Homo sapiens: one gene and its partner. The protein of the gene in region 1 interacts with the protein of each later gene in a biochemical or structural test. Each region holds a gene or a part of one and is shown in the gene's direction. Other genes may lie near its edges. The genes, in order: F5 and SRPK2.

Region 1 (3,821 bases):
GATATAAGTCAAATGTCCCCTTCCTCAGAACATGAAGTCTGGCAGACAGTCATCTCTCCAGACCTCAGCCAGGTGACCCTCTCTCCAGAACTCAGCCAGACAAACCTCTCTCCAGACCTCAGCCACACGACTCTCTCTCCAGAACTCATTCAGAGAAACCTTTCCCCAGCCCTCGGTCAGATGCCCATTTCTCCAGACCTCAGCCATACAACCCTTTCTCCAGACCTCAGCCATACAACCCTTTCTTTAGACCTCAGCCAGACAAACCTCTCTCCAGAACTCAGTCAGACAAACCTTTCTCCAGCCCTCGGTCAGATGCCCCTTTCTCCAGACCTCAGCCATACAACCCTTTCTCTAGACTTCAGCCAGACAAACCTCTCTCCAGAACTCAGCCATATGACTCTCTCTCCAGAACTCAGTCAGACAAACCTTTCCCCAGCCCTCGGTCAGATGCCCATTTCTCCAGACCTCAGCCATACAACCCTTTCTCTAGACTTCAGCCAGACAAACCTCTCTCCAGAACTCAGTCAAACAAACCTTTCCCCAGCCCTCGGTCAGATGCCCCTTTCTCCAGACCCCAGCCATACAACCCTTTCTCTAGACCTCAGCCAGACAAACCTCTCTCCAGAACTCAGTCAGACAAACCTTTCCCCAGACCTCAGTGAGATGCCCCTCTTTGCAGATCTCAGTCAAATTCCCCTTACCCCAGACCTCGACCAGATGACACTTTCTCCAGACCTTGGTGAGACAGATCTTTCCCCAAACTTTGGTCAGATGTCCCTTTCCCCAGACCTCAGCCAGGTGACTCTCTCTCCAGACATCAGTGACACCACCCTTCTCCCGGATCTCAGCCAGATATCACCTCCTCCAGACCTTGATCAGATATTCTACCCTTCTGAATCTAGTCAGTCATTGCTTCTTCAAGAATTTAATGAGTCTTTTCCTTATCCAGACCTTGGTCAGATGCCATCTCCTTCATCTCCTACTCTCAATGATACTTTTCTATCAAAGGAATTTAATCCACTGGTTATAGTGGGCCTCAGTAAAGATGGTACAGATTACATTGAGATCATTCCAAAGGAAGAGGTCCAGAGCAGTGAAGATGACTATGCTGAAATTGATTATGTGCCCTATGATGACCCCTACAAAACTGATGTTAGGACAAACATCAACTCCTCCAGAGATCCTGACAACATTGCAGCATGGTACCTCCGCAGCAACAATGGAAACAGAAGAAATTATTACATTGCTGCTGAAGAAATATCCTGGGATTATTCAGAATTTGTACAAAGGTTTGGCCAGTTTTCTCCTTTTTTATTCTCATTTTTCCATTACTGCTGAAAAAAGTAGCTACTACAATTCAGGGGGATAATTGTGGGCAAATTATACTAAGAACAGTGTGGTTCCCCTATTGCAAGTTGGCCTGTTCTTTTTCCTTTGTCAATTCCAAGATTGCTTCTTTACCTTAGATGACCCCTGGACAATATAAGAACAATCACTGTGAGAACTCTATAATATTCTGTAATTAAGCATTTTTCTGTGTCCTCTCCTCTTACTACCCATGTTTCTACTGACTCTTATTGCTCCAGGCAGAGCCCAACCTATCCATAGCTATATGCTAATCAATATGATTTAATTGAAGTTAGCCTCAAATCCAAACTCAAATATGATGTAGAAATCTCCTTTTTGCATTTACTTGTTTAGATCAGAATTTCTAAGAGATCCAAATCCCTTTTTTAAAAGAATATTTACAATTCAGTTTTGCTTAGGGGTAGAAAGCCATGTTGAACTGGGCTCTTTGTTCTGGGATGAAGATACAGAAAGAGAAGAGAGAGGAGGAAAGGAGCAAGGCTTAGTCAACTACAAATTCTCAGGGATATAGCATGATGACTGTGCATCAGCTGTCTAGATATGCCCACAGCTTTTACTAAAGCTGTTACACTAATCACTTAAAAAACCAAAGTGTAATTACAGTAGGCAAACACAATGTATGGTGTGACTTATGCATATGAGTTCATTAATCTGATGCCTGACATCTCCACATTAGAACTCTGTTTAAAACACCTTTTCCTATGACTTCCTATTTAAATGTTGCACTCAATACCACATGAGAACAACTAGCTACCTGAGTATTTCTAAGCAAGGCCCCGAGGGAGTGAGATGCAGGGCCTGTCCAGAGTGAATAGGGATGGAACCACCTTCAAAATCTTGTATTCCATTCAAGGCTCACAACCCACTTTTATGGCATTCGGAGTTGCTTTACCCACTCCCTTGTGTTCTGTGAGTTTGCATGTTATGCTCAGAGTCTGGAAAGATGGGATTAGTAGGGGAGGTAGACCAGAAGAAAGGCAGAAGGAGATTCTCTGTTGATGACTCACAGTATATAGCAAATATTATGGGTTTGATGGGTGAGTGTTTGGCTTGTTTCCACAGGCTTGGGAAATGTGAGAGTCAGTGGGAGAATTCGACATGCTTCAGTCCTAGACTGAGCCAATGAACTAGATGGAAATAATGTGCTTTATTTATTTATTTATAATTTGTAATTAAACTTTTTATTTTGGAACAAAAATAAAATAGATTCACATACAGTCAAGAGAAATAATACGGAGAGATCCTTTGGGTATCCTGAGTATTCTTTACCCAGTTTCTCCCAGGGGTAACATTTTGCAAATCTATAATACTATATCACAACCAGCACACTGATGTTGATACTGTCAAGACACAGAATGTTCACCATCACCATAAAAATCCCTCTCATTACCCCTTTATAGTCACATCTGCCTTCCTCCCACCATAGCCCTTCCTTATTCCCTGGCAACCAGTAGTCTGATCTCCATTTCTATAATTTTGTCATTTCAAGAATATTACATAAATGGAATCAGGCAACATGTAACCTTTGGGGACTGGTATTTTTTCACTCAGTATAATTCTCTGGAGATTCATCTGGTTATTGCATGTATTCCATTATATGGGTGTACCCCAGTTTTTTTGTTGTTGTTGTTTTATACACATTTATGGTGTAAACATGATGTTTTAATATATTTATAAATTGTGAATTGGCTAAATCAAGCTAATTAACCTATGCATTACCTCACATACTTTTTTGTGGTTAGAACACTTAAAATGTACTCAGCAATGTTAAAAATTCAGTGTGTTGTTATTAACTACAGTCACCATCTTATACAACAGATCTTCTAAATTTATTTCTTCTAACTGAATTTTATCTTTTGACCATTTTCTCAATGCTCCACCTCTGTATCCCTTTGTTAACCACTGTTCTACCTTCTGCTTCTATGAGCTCAATGTTTTTAGTTTCCACATTATAAGTGAGATCCTGCAGTACTTGTCTTTCTGTGCCTGGCTTATTTTATGTAACATAACGACCTCCTGGTTCAGTCATGTTGTCACAAATGGCATTTCTTCGTTTTCTTTTTTTTAAATGCTAAATAGTATTTCATTGTTTATGTAGATCACATTTAAGAAATCCATTCATTTGTTTATAGACATTTGGGTTGCTTCCCTATCTTGGCTAATGTGGCTAATGCTGCAGTGAACGTGGGACAGCAGATATCTCTTCAACATACTGATTTCATTTTCTTTGGGTATATACCCAAAAGTGGGATTGATGGATCATGTGGTAATTCTATTTTTAATTTTTAAAGGAACCTCCCATACTGTTTTCCATAATGGCTGTACTAATTTACACTCTCACCAAGAGTATACAAGAGTTCCCTTTTCTTCACATCCATGCCAACATTTATCTCTTGTCATTTTTATAATAGCCATCCTAACGGTGTGAGGTGAGCCCTCATTGTGATTTT
Region 2 (3,821 bases), on another chromosome or scaffold:
CAAGGTCTTGCTCTGTTCCCCAAGCTGAAGTGCAGTGGCAGGACTATAGTTCACTGCAGACTCCACTTCCCAAGCTCAAGTGATCCTCCCACCTCAGCCTCTGGTGTAGCTGGGACTACAGGCACATGCCACCACGCCTGGCTAATTTTTGTATTTTTTGTAGAGATGGAGTTTGTCACGTTGTCTAGGCTGGTCTTGATCTCCTGAGCTCAAGTGATCCACCCGCCCTGGTCTCCCATAGTGCTGGGATTACAGGGATGTGACACTGTGCCCGGCTGTCTTTGAGATTTATAAATAGCATCAAATCTCACAGAGACTCTGTTGGGAATGAGAGCTGACGGGTGGTAGCCATTGGCTATTGTCAGGGAGGACAGCTTTAGGCTCTGCAGCTGGAGAAGCACAACAGAATGAGGGACCACAGCAAGGGTATGTTGGGTTTGGATCTGTTTTACTTTTCTTGAGTTTTACTTTTTTTTTGAGCTTTACACCTTCCAGTGTAAGTACATATAATCTGAAACTTCTTTGTGGCTGAAGCATTGGTTTCTCTGCATTTATGTATTAGAGTCTCTGATAGGACTTTTTATGAACTCCATGGTGAGTCCTGGTCAGTGCCATAGAAACAAGAAAAGCCATTCCAACAAACTTCACCAGACTTCTTCGGCACTGGTCACATTACAGAACAAATACGTGATCTTATTTGTTCAGAATCGGGATACTTCAGCATAGGAGAATGTTTTAGGAGAGAGGTAGTTGGTCTCCCAAGAATCTGGAAACAAGTAGGTCCAGGGAAGAGCCCTTTGAGGGGATTGAGCCAAGTAGAGAAGAATCCGGAGTTCCCAGGTATTAAAAATAATAATAAAGATTATACTTAGGCCCAGCGAGGTGATGCACACCTGTAATCCCAGCACTTTGGGAGGCCAAGGCAGGCAGATCACTTGAGGCCAGGAGTTTGAGACCAGCCTGGCCAACATGGCAAAACCCCATCTCTACTGAAAATACAAAAATTAGCTGGGCATGGTGGCACGTGCCTATAGTCCTAGCTACTCAGGTGGCTGAGGCAGGAGAATCGCTTGAACCCAGGAGGCAGAGGTTGTAGTGAGCCAAAATTGTGCCGCTGCACTCAGCCTGGGCAATAGAAGGTTATACTGGGAGTAACTGAGTTGAAGGCAGAGTTTTTTTCATTGTAATGTGCATTTGCCCTGTTGTACATGTTGTATTGTTAAGAGAATCTTGCCACTCTCCAAAGAATCAAAAATGGGTAGCATTACAGCCTTCATCTTCCTTGTTCCTTTAAAAAAAAAGAAAATTATTTGGCCGGGCTTGGTGGCTCACGCCTGTAATCCCAGCACTTTGGGAGGCCGAGGCAGGCGGGTCACGAGGTCAGGCTAACATGGTGAAATCCCGTCTCTACAAAAAATTAGCCGGGCGTGGTGGCGGGCGCCTGTAGTCCCAGCTACTCAGGAGGCTGAGGCAAGGAGAATGGTGTGAGCTTGCAGTGAGCTGAGATTGATTGTGCCACTGCACTCCAGCCTGGGTGACAGAGCGAGACTCCGTCTCAAAAAAAAATTATTTCATTGATTGGCTTCTATACATGTTTTCTTGGGAATATGTGGGTGCTAATCAAAATGATGATTTTTTTCAAAGAATACATACCTGACATATTTTGGCAGTAAGAAATATGTACAAAGCTGGGTGCAGTGTAGTGCGCCTGTAGTCCCAGCTTCTCTGGAGGCTGAGAGAGGATCACTGGAGCCCAAGAGGTTGAGTCCAGCCTGGACAACATAGCGAGGTCCCTTCTCTAAAAAATATGAAAGAAAAAGAAATATATGCAACCAGATTGAAGTCATTTTGAAAATTAATTAAAAGAGTTAGTTAGCATAGGGCTCAAGGCAGGGGTTGAAAAGCAGCTTGGAACTTGATCCAGGCTTTTCAAGTCCTCGTTGTCCCATTAGAGTTTTCAGATTTTTCTCTTAGCTTGTAAGATACTGAATTGATTGTTTCCCAGGCTAGAAGGACTCTCCTGGCCATTGAGTGTGTAATCTAGTTGTTCCACTTGGATTTGGGGCCAGTTATGAGGTTTTCCTGCCCTCATCTGGGATTGGCCCAACTGTCTTCTTTGTTTATTGGGTGGAAAGGAGAGGCCCTACATAAGGGCTTTCCTGGGTTTTCTGCTGGTGCCTTCGTGCATCCACAGTGCTGGGACCACCAGCTCACCATGCTGAGATGTGACATGTCCGTGTCTTGCTCAGACCTATGCCAGGTTCAGGGCAGGGATCCTGAGTTCATAAATTAATGCTTATCGCTCGGTCAGCTGGAAGCCATCTTGTCACCATCCTTCCTTCCTTCAAGTGATTGACAGGCAGTCTTTTTTTTTAAAAAAGGTGAAAAGATGTGGTCCTGGGCTGACTGCACTCACTCTTGGTTTGTTAAAGACAGTGCCAGGAGAGGTGGCCCCTCACCCAGGCAGGTGAGCCTTCCCTTAAAGGTGCCTTTCCAGCACTGTGTGGTCATTGAAAGAAAAAGAAGGTAGGTTGATGCAGTGAAGTTTCCCCAGTATTGGCTCCTTGGGGCGGGAATGGGGAGGGCAGTCACAGATCCACAGGCATCAGTGATTGGGCCTCTGAGCACCTTTTGGGACAGCAAGATCCGTTCAGAATAGAAGCAGCTATGAGAAAAACCAGAAATGGGATTTAGCTTATTCTTTTTTTCTCTTTTAAAACATTCTCTTTGATCAGCAGAGCAGTAGCAGTTGCCATTTTTGTATATTGTTACTAGCTTAAACTCATGTTTTTGAGGGTTTTTTTGTGAGCAAGGGAAATGTGTTCCCTACATGCTGGCATGCTGAGGGACAGCCAGTGGCCACCCAGGAAGCCAGTGCTCCGTGACATCCACAAAAGGGTCTGCAAGACCATCTGCTTCCTCTGGCCCTGGGGACAAAGAGGGTCTTTTTTGTTTCCAGGTTTTCCTTTGGTTGAATCAGAAATGAATGAAATGATGATGAAAATGGTTGATGAGATACTGAAAATAGTCCTTGGTTACTAAAACATGAAGGTCTTCGCCTAAAAGACGCAGCAGTGTCTGCTATACAGAGGCCAAGGCTATTATAGTGGTTGAGGCAGGTGCTGGAGTCAGACGGGCCTTGTTGAGTCCTGGGTTGAACTCTCGTTCTACCATTTATAGAGTGCATACCGCGCTCTGGCCAGGCCTGCATGCAGGTGCGGCTGACTCACTGACGTTTTGGTTTTGCTTCCTGCAAAATGAAGAGAATACATAGCTCTTATATCTTTCCTTAGAAATGTAAAAATACTTCTGAAACTTCTTTGAATGTGGAAGAAAGAAAAAAATTAGTATTGAGCACTTTCAGGAGGCTATTTTGTTTGATTCAGATCTTCATAAAGTGGCGGTCTCTTCTATAAGGAGAAAAAGCTGTTGACTTGGGGGCCAGTCTCTGAAGTGCTTAGCATGTCGTCTGTTGTATCCTAGGCATTTGAGCTGGCAACGGGAGATTATTTGTTTGAACCACATTCTGGGGAAGACTATTCCAGAGACGAAGGTGAGTATTGGTGCCTGCTGAATACCTCGGTCTAGGTCTTCTGCCAGCCCTGAACTTCTGTAGAGTACTGTATTTTTGTACTGAAATAGAGCCATGTGTTTGGTTTTCAAACACCAAATTCAGATGCTTTTCCTTTGAGTTTGATGCCCCCTCAGTCTCAGTGAATGGGCAGAGCCTGCCTAGCACAGGCAGCACTCCAGCGAGCCCTCAGGGGCCCTACACCAGCGGCTCTTCCTGGCCTTGCACAGGGCAGGAACCCAGCTGGCTG

The links.
Region 2: of the proteins of F5 (region 1) and SRPK2, one has a biochemical effect on the other in vitro, tested with the Homo sapiens proteins (one large-scale study listed by BioGRID).

Annotation. Positions count from the first base shown.
Region 1 is NC_000001.11:169,537,765-169,541,585, reverse strand, and holds part of F5 (coagulation factor V preproprotein), read left to right. Parts: coding exon 1-1,292; intron 1,293-3,821. UniProt on the Homo sapiens protein: Central regulator of hemostasis. It serves as a critical cofactor for the prothrombinase activity of factor Xa that results in the activation of prothrombin to thrombin.
Region 2 is NC_000007.14:105,126,725-105,130,545, reverse strand, and holds part of SRPK2 (SRSF protein kinase 2), read left to right. Parts: intron 1-1,653; exon of another isoform or gene 1,654-1,760; intron 1,761-3,483; coding exon 3,484-3,553; intron 3,554-3,821. UniProt on the Homo sapiens protein: Serine/arginine-rich protein-specific kinase which specifically phosphorylates its substrates at serine residues located in regions rich in arginine/serine dipeptides, known as RS domains and is involved in the phosphorylation of SR splicing factors and the regulation of splicing.